Regions from separate parts of the Homo sapiens genome. Here region 1 is linked to region 2. Evidence: fine-mapped expression QTL. A gene starts in region 2. The other region holds a variant in brackets. All regions are shown on one strand. Distances are from middle to middle.

What was found. PIP is the estimated chance that this variant, and not a neighbour inherited with it, causes the effect. A credible set is the group of variants that fine-mapping cannot tell apart.
Region 1: its variant is the best candidate, but not a certain one, in a credible set for the expression of ACER2 in lymphoblastoid cells (GTEx, PIP 0.66).

Annotation. Positions count from the first base shown.
Region 1 is chr9:19,446,822-19,451,215 of GRCh38, reverse strand. It overlaps ACER2 (alkaline ceramidase 2), which reads right to left. Exons shown (of 6, transcript NM_001010887.3): 6 at 1-766. The coding sequence ends at 580. Among named protein-coding and RNA genes, the nearest start is that of MAP1LC3BP1, 14 kb to the left of the region's middle. RefSeq lists enhancers at 4,273-4,394, 3,958-4,394. The variant T/C (reference allele first, on the strand shown) is at 2,741.
Region 2 is chr9:19,406,946-19,411,339 of GRCh38, reverse strand. It overlaps ACER2 (alkaline ceramidase 2), which reads right to left and starts at 2,331. Exons shown (of 6, transcript NM_001010887.3): 1 at 2,148-2,331. The coding sequence starts at 2,255. RefSeq lists enhancers at 2,086-2,235, 1,648-2,503, 2,504-3,361 and a silencer at 2,336-2,625.

The DNA of each region.
Region 1 (4,394 bases), 40 kb before region 2:
GGTCTGGAGCAGGCCAGCTTTCTCCAGGAAGAGATGCATTGTACAGGGCTGGATCCCCCAAGGGACTGCTCTGCCATGGCCATTAAGGACGCAGCCCAACAAGTCACTGCATCTGGAAGTGATGCTGAGAAAGATGCATCTAGTGTCCCTAAGCCCTCCATTTTCCATCTTTGGGAAAGGAATAGACACTTTTCCCCTTGTACAGTGGAATCCAGGTGGTCCACAGACACATTAGGGAGGAGGAGGGGACCTTTTTAAAAATTACACAAAATCCAGAAATCCTAAAGAAAAGATTAACAGATGTGACAACATGAAAGTTTAAAACCAGTATGGCACAAAAATATTAACATACTGAAAGACAAATGGGAAACTGCAGGGGGGCAGGGAATATTTGTACCATATGACAAAGTTTAAATCCCTACATACAAAGAACACTAAAGAAATTAAGAGCCCCAGCAAATAGATTTTTGAAAAGATAGCCCACACCCCAACTATTCGAACTCCCTTGGCTGTCTTCCTAGCAAAGGAAGCCCACTGCATGAGGGGCGATAAGCAGAGAAGCCAGCCACCATCTTGCCATCACGTGATCTTGACTGATGATTTCTTGTTGGCACACAGGAGGGACACATAGGGGACACCAATGAAGGCCCATTTCTCATTGGGCCAGAACTTGATGACAGGGCCTTGCTCAGGAATCTCTGAGGCAGCATCAAAGTAGGCAAAGCATACACAGCCCAGGTAGGCAGCAAGGCAGATGAGGATGTGCCTGCAGAGGGAGACAAGAGGTGAGAACCTGATGAGCATGAAGACTCCGCTGCCCTGAGTTTAGCCTGCTCCTTCTTCCGGTCTAACCCACGCACCTTGCTGACTGTAGTTGCAGCCCAGGGGCCTCTTCTAATTAGGAAAGGATGAAGATTACCAACAATCCCTGGAATAGCAGGATGATAAATCTTCAGCAATTTGGGACCCGTTTTAGAATGTTCTTAAATAGTCCTGCTGGATAATAGGAACAAATGTGCAAATAAATGCCTTTGGGCCTCAAACAAGAAGACTGAGGCCCAAGGATTTACAACAGAGATGCTAAGATGGAAGTAACTGAGCACATCTGATTAGAACCCACCTTCTCACTTTAACAACTGGTTACAGATATTTTATGTCCTTCATCAGGAATAATTTTATGTTGGTTAAACCACTTTTGCAGTTTAGTGGAAATTTTAAAAAATTTATCCTCACTGTACCTGTACAAAGTTTTAAATTTATATTAAACTTTATCGAACAATAGACCATTTAAAAGCATGTAATCCTTTTTTTTTTTTTTTTTTTTTAAATGAAGTCTCACCCTGTCATCCAGGCTGGAGTGCAATGGTGCAATCTCGGCTCACTGCAACCTCTGCCTCCTGGGTTCAAGCAATTCTCCTGCCTCAGCCTCCCAAGTAGCTGGGATTACAGGCACCCACCACCAGGCCCACCTAGCTAATTTTTGTATTTTTAGTAGAGAGGGAGGGGGTTTCACCATGTTGGCCAGGCTGGTCTTGAACTCCTGACCTCAGGTAATCCACCTGCCTCGGCCTCCCAAAGTGCTGGGATTACAGTCGTAAGCCACTGCGCCCAGCCCAAAGACAATATTTTTATAAACTTTGATGTTGGGGAGGAGGGGATCTTTTTAAAAATTACACAAAATCCAGAAATCCTATAGAAAAGATTAACAGATGTGACAATATGAAAGTTTAAAACCAGTATGGCACAAAAATATTAATATACTGAAAGACAAATGAGAAACTGCAGGGGGGCAGGGAATATTTGTACCATATGACAAAGTTTAAATCCCTACATACAAAGAACACTAAAGAAATTAATCAGGGTCAGGGTGGGAAGTAGGTGAGAATGGTATGAACCAGATTGGCCTCGTGTTGATAGTTATGGAATCTGGGTGTTGCCTATATGGGGGTTCAATGTATTATTCTCTGTACTTGTGAAAATGTTGCAAATATGCATAAGTGGCACATAGTTACGTAGCTAGTAATGACTGTCTACTATGTGCCAAGCCTAGATGCTGAATATAAACTGTTTTATTTTTTATTTTTTGGAGACGGGGTCTCACTCTGTTGCTCAGGCTAGAGTACAGTGGCACAATCTCAGCTCACTTCAATCTCCGCCTCCCAGGTTCAAACGATTCTCCTGCCTCAACCTCCCAAATAGCTGGGACTACATGCACATCCGGCTAATTTTTTGCATTTTTAGTAGAGACGGGGTTTCACCGTGTTAGCCAGGATGGTCTCGATCTCCTGACCTGGTGATCCACCTGCCTCGGCCTCCCAAAGTGCTGAGATTACGGGCGTGAGCCACCACGCCCGGCTGATATGAACTTTTAAAAATAGAAACACTCAATAGACCAGACAAAGAAAATTAAAAGGGGAAATACACATCACAAATTGACATTTGAAAAGATGCCCAACAAAAATACTAATTTTTTAAAAAGACATAATAATAAAAACAAAATATAATTTTTCTCAAACAGGTTAATGGAGATTTAAGAGTTTCCAGTATATGTGAAAGTGTGGGTAAAAAATGCTCTCTTACAGACTTCAGTAAACAGTGTTAATGGTACAGTTTCTCTGGATTTAGCAATATATAATATTAATTTAACATATGAAAATATTCAGAAACTCAAATCAATCTAGATGTTCATTATAAAGTGTTTGCAAAAGTGGAAAATTAGAAATAACCTCAAAGTCCGTTA[T/C]CAGAGAGAGGTTGGTTAAATAAATTATAAAGTGTCCATATTATGAAGCATTTATTAGACACAAAAATGAAGATTATATATATGTATTGGTATGGAATGATGTCTGTATAGCATTAGATCTATGTAGTATAGATTTAAGTATTTGGTTAAAAAAAAAGTTTGGGCCAGGCTCAATGGCTCATGCCTGTAATCCCAGCACTTTGGGAGCCCAAGGCAGGTGGACCTGCTCGAGCCCAGGAGTTTCTGACTAGCCTGGGCAACATGGCAAAAATCCATCTCTACAAAAAAATTCAAAATAAATTAGCCTGGCACAGTGGCATGCACCTGTAGTCCCAGCTCCCTGCAGGGGGTGAGGTGGGAGAATCACTTTCAGTCCGGGAGGCAGAGATTGCAGTGAGCCAAGATCACCCCACTGCACTCCAGCCTGGGCAACAGAGTGAGACTTTGTCTCAAAAAAAAAAAAAAAAAAAAGTTTGCATCGTGTATAGAATGATGCTATTTTTTTTAAAAGTAGACATATATATGTGTGCGTGTGTGTGTACATATAAAATCTCAATGGATATACATCAGACTGTTAATAATTATGTTTCTTTGGGGGATAGAATTATGAGAGCCATTCTTTCTATACTTCTATGTTGTTTAAATTTGTTATAAAAAATATGTCATTTTATAACTGGAAAGAAAATATGGTTCAACTTTGAAAAACAAAGCAGAAATATACCAAATTCAGAAACACATTAAGTTTGAGTCAAAATTATTACATAGTTTAAATTTCGAATTTGACTTAAATCATGTGTGACAGGGGACTTAGATAAAAATGACCATCTTGAATGAGGTCATATTTACCTAGTGTATACATTTCTCAAAATTCACAATATACACTTAAAATCTGTACATTTTGTTATCTGGAAATTATAACCCAACAAATATATAAACTATATAAATTCACTAGTATTAGTTGAGTTGAATCTAAAAAATATCGAGCAATGGATCCTAAGACGGTAAACTCCAACTTGTGCTGTTTGAATTTTGTCTTTTACAAACACTCCTTGAAGTCCCCAAGTCTTAAATTTAGAGTAGGGTGGGTCTCATAGCAAATATATCAAAGTTCACATGAGCAAGGGAACTTAAGTGAATTCTATCAAATTGTATATTTTTAGCCTATCTCTGGATAGAAGTCAACCTTTTCCTGAATCTAGATCTAACAAAGTTTTTCCATTTCTTCACCACTAGAATTCCTCTCTGGGTTCCTCCTACCTATAGGGGATAACCTACAGCAGATTTCTCCTCCTTGTGATCTTTTGCAATCAGAAGTCCTGGAGGACAGAAAGGAAAGATCACTCTGGGTTTGAGGCTGAAGCAGTTCCTAGGAAGAAAGCCACTCCAATTTCCCCCAGCTTTCTCAGAATCGGATTCTGCATGTATTTTGTAACCCGCTTTTTTTTTTTTAACTTAGTGTATCCTGAGCATTCCAAAGTATAGACGCTCCAATGTGCTATTACTGAACTCCAAGGTTGTTTTCTACAGAAACAGGTGGGTGACATTAAACAATTCACTTTAGCTCTCTGGTCTTCTGTCCCCACTTATAGAAATAATGGAAGAGAATGTCTCTAAATGGCCAGTGCGGCCCCTCCTTGCACTTGGTCTCTCAGGC
Region 2 (4,394 bases):
ACTCAACAAAGTTAGGCAATGACCTTATTCTCTGACACCTTACGCTCTCTGCTTTGCCAGAGCAAATTTTGTGGTTTATGAGTATTCCAAGGAATAAAGTTTGTCAGATGGGCCAGCTGGGCTCATCAGCCAGACAATGCAGCTGAAGATCAACAGTTAGTTTCTGAAAAAGACTTTAGCACTCACTACATAGAGTAACGGCTCCAATGGGACTAGATTAAAAGTAAAGACAAACTCTCCCTTTCATCCAGCCCTATGACACTTTTCAAGACAGACTCAGAGAAGCCATACACTAGCTTTTTTGGCCAAAATAACCAAGGTTGACCCTCTCTGTAGACCCCAGGCTGCACAGAGAATAATCTTGCTAAGTGTGTGAGAACCTGTCATCAAGCTGTCTTTTCTTCTTGAACTCTGGTGAAATCCTTACTCTTTCACTATATTCTTTATTTACAAAAGGACAGCTTGTGTTACCACTGGTGTTTCTCCTTATTGAAAGTACCCAGAACTACTCCAGCCCATCCTCTGTGTGCAACTATTTACCCCTGACAGCATGCTCTGGGAGGTTATGCAATACATAAGTCATGGCCACTTCCACTGTCTTTCACAGTATCTGTGGTCAGCAGAGGGCCAGGTTTTCTTTGAGACCCTGTTGCCCAGGCTGGAGTGGAGTGGCGCGATCTCAGTTCATTGCAGCCTTCAACTCCCAGGCTCAGGTGATCCTCCCACCTCAGCTTCCCAAGTAGCTGGGACGACAAGTGTGTGCCACATGTCCAGCTAATTTTTGTATTTTTTTGTAGAGATGAGGTTTCGCCATGTTGCCCAGGTTGGTCTCGAACTCCTGGATTCAAGCGATCCACCTGCCTTGGCCTCCCAAAGTGCTAGGAATACAGGTGTGAGCCACAACGCCCAGCCTTAGGTTTTCTTAAGGAACCAACCTAATCATAAAAAAAGGAGCAGGAGTGTTTGTGTGGAAGCCAGCCATGGATTTCAGCACTGAGGGAAGGAAGGGCCCAGACTTCTGGATTGTGGCCCCAGCCATGCCAGAAATGTGAGCATGACAGCTCCCTCCTCAAGAGCCCAGTTTTCTCATCAGATGAATAAAAGGACAGGGACTAGATCATCTGAGATTCCTGCAGGCAGTAAGCACCTGACTCCTGCTGAAGACATTCTCTCTAGCAAATCCAAAAGGAAAAGTCCTAAACAACAACCTCAAATTCACAATGACCCAAACCAGGAGTTCCTGTTTCCCTTGTTTGGGCGGTGAAAAGATAAGCCACAGAAATGACCACGCAAAGTCTCACATTCTGTACCAGGATTCTGAGCCATGGACATACACAAAATAAGAGGCATTTCCTCTCCCAGCTGCAACCCTTCCCTACCACAAGAACTAAAATCACACAGGATTCTGCAATGGGGAAGTTTCTGCTCACCCTTATCTAGGGACCTAGGCAAATCCAAAACCCGCACATTATCACTCCCAAACTTTCCTTTCATCCCTCAGACTTCAGAACTGGAGAAAGCACAGTCCTGGGGGAGTTGAATTAGCGGCTTGCACAAGACAGGACACTAAAGGCAAGAAAAAAAAACAAGTAGTAATTAACTTGATTCTGACCAAAAATAACTCGACCATTATAGGCATGTTCTTGGGGGTGGGGCAAGTCTGCCTGGTGGGAGTGACCCCAGCCGCGGGGACCTGCGGGGGGCGTGCTCTTCCCAGCACTCCGAGAGCAGGTATTCAGGGCAAAAAAGCACAATGCGACCCAAGTGCGTCACGCCACAGAGATCCCAGGGGAGGAAGAGACTTGTCCCGGCAGGTTCACCGCCCCCAGCTGACCCAAACAAGGAGAATGGGCTGACACAGACCCCTGGTTCCTGGACGCGTGGGGGCCAAACAAGACAATAGGACCATCACAAAACAAATGACAGCAGGAGGAAGATGAGCCCAGCTGTCGGGAATGGGGACAGGAGAGGAGGACAGATGGAGAACTGAAAGGAGCGCGCCGAGGAGGGGGTGTGGACTGACTCAGCCCCTGGAGAGAATGCCCCCAGATGCGCGCAGAGACCCACGTCCAGCTTCCAGACGCTGCGGCGCGGGAACAGCCCCCTCCCGCTGGCCCGCCTGCCTTCCCCGCTCCCGCGCCCCGCACCGTGTTGTAGAACTCGGCGATAGCAGGCACGATGGTGTAGTTGTCCTCGCACCAGTCCACCTCCGAGCTACCAGCCTGCAGCTGGTCCCACCAGTGCGGGGCGCCCATGGCCACTCCGGGGCATTGGAGCAGCTGCTCGCGCAGCTGAGAAGAGCCCAGAGCTGCTGCGGAGGCAAAACGCGGCGACAGCCAGCGGCGAAAGCGGCTTTATGAAGCACCGGGTAACCGCCGGATGTGCGCCTCCCAACTGGCCTCCCGCGCTCCGCCCCGCCTCGCCTCGCCTGCGGGAGGTTACTCGTTCGCAGACCCTCCCCGGCCCCTCCCCCTGGAAGCCACGCCCACCGTGGGGCGGGACCCGCGTGGAGGAGGGGTCCAGGGTGGGGCGCCTGGAGGCGGAGACCGGGCTCCAGACTCTTCCAGACTACCCAGCACCCGGCAGGTGGCCAGGGCCTCGATGGTGCTACCCACGCCTGCCCACGCCCATCTCCTGGCTCAGACTCGCAGCCTCCCCCGATTGAAGGAGCGCCAGAACTCTCCCTGGAAAAAAATTTAAAATAAAAAGAAACCCGGGAGGACCTGGACCTCTCTGGACCCAGAGTTTGCAGCGATTTTGCTGCGTCCGGCGTTGGACGCCAGTGCTTACACCAGAGAAGTGCCCTCAGTCCCTCCGAGGCCGGACGCCACTCGCTGCGGTCACTGTGGCAGGAAGACCTTCCCGGCTGCTGGAGCAGGTTGGGCCGCCCAGTCCCCGGGGGAGCACTTCTATTTAGAGTACGTTCCTGCCCTCCCTCCCCTTGGCTCCAGCGTTAAGGCTTAATCTAGCCTTCGATATGGGGACTTAGGCAAAGGGTCAAACGTCAGCCATCCCAAACTGCAGAGGATGTAGTGTGGCAGTTATGACATCTCCAAGATATCGAGGTTCAAGAGGTGATAGATAACATACACATGCCAGGTGCTGTCTGAAGAGTTTCCATGTATCACTCATTTAGTGTGCCCAGCAGAGACCCTGTGAGGGGCTTCTATTAGCAAGTGACAGAGCTGGAAATTCAATTCAGGCAAGATGTCCTCAGATCCAGTCATAACTACCTTCTTTTGCTTCTGTAACTGTTCTGCGGTTTGTAAATGAAAGCCAATCTGGTTCCCAGGATCCCTAGAGGAAAGCCACCCTCTGTGTGTATGTGGTGGCTCCCGTTCTCCTTCCTTGAAAGGTTGTAGGATTCTAGGTCAGGACAGCGGCAGAAGAGGCCCTGGGCAGCAGCCCATTGGTGACTGTCATTAGGACGTCTTGCTCGGACCCGCAGGGTATCCTAAAGGCCAGCAACTCCCCAGGGTCTGCCCTCTCTCTGGGCCTGACTGCCCAGCAGGACCCTGGGTGGTGCTTCAGTGTCCTCTGCACCAAGTGTTTGTCTGCCCACCAGTACCCACACAGCCATGTGCAAGTCCCCAGAGATCTCCATCACTGACAAAAACTGCAAGCCCCGCCGCCTCTCCTAGTCTCTAGAAAATCCAGGTTTGTCCCCCAGGGGCCAAACCACACTCCTCCTTTCATCTTTGTCCCAACCTCTATCCCTTCCTCCTGCTTTACGGGCAATTCCACTGCCCTCCAGAACCCAAGTAGAAGATACACTCTTACCTTCCCCTAGGGTTGATTTACCCAGACCTACAGGATACCCGGAGTGAGCTGGCCACCTAAGAAAGGCGGTTGAGGGCCGGGCGCGGTGGCTCATGCCTGTAATCCCAGCACTTTGGGAGGCCGAGGCAGGCGGATCACGAGGTCAGGAGATGGAGACCATCCTGGCTAACATGGTGAAACCCCGTCTCTACTTAAAAAAAGAATACAAAAAATTACCCGGGCGTCGTGGCGGGCGCCTGTAGTCCCAGCTACGCAGGAGGCTGAGGCAGGAGAATTGCGTGAACCCGGGAAGCGGAGCTTGCAGTGAGCCGAGATCGCGCCACTGCACTCCAGCCTGGGTGACAGAGCGAGATTCCATCTCAAAAACGAAGGGCGGTTGGGGTGGATGTTTCCCACAGCCACAGAAGAAAGATACATCAGTTAATTTCTGTGTCTCAAAATGCTACACCAACTGTTCAGCAATAGAATTTTCCCTGTAGTCAATATTTTACTTCTTCCAACAACAGTTTACTTGGAAATATATCCATATTCATCAAAATATAATGGTATTTTTAAAAAACCATTATTTTATATGCCAGAGATTCTCAAAGTGTGGTTCCTCCCTTTCTTTTCAT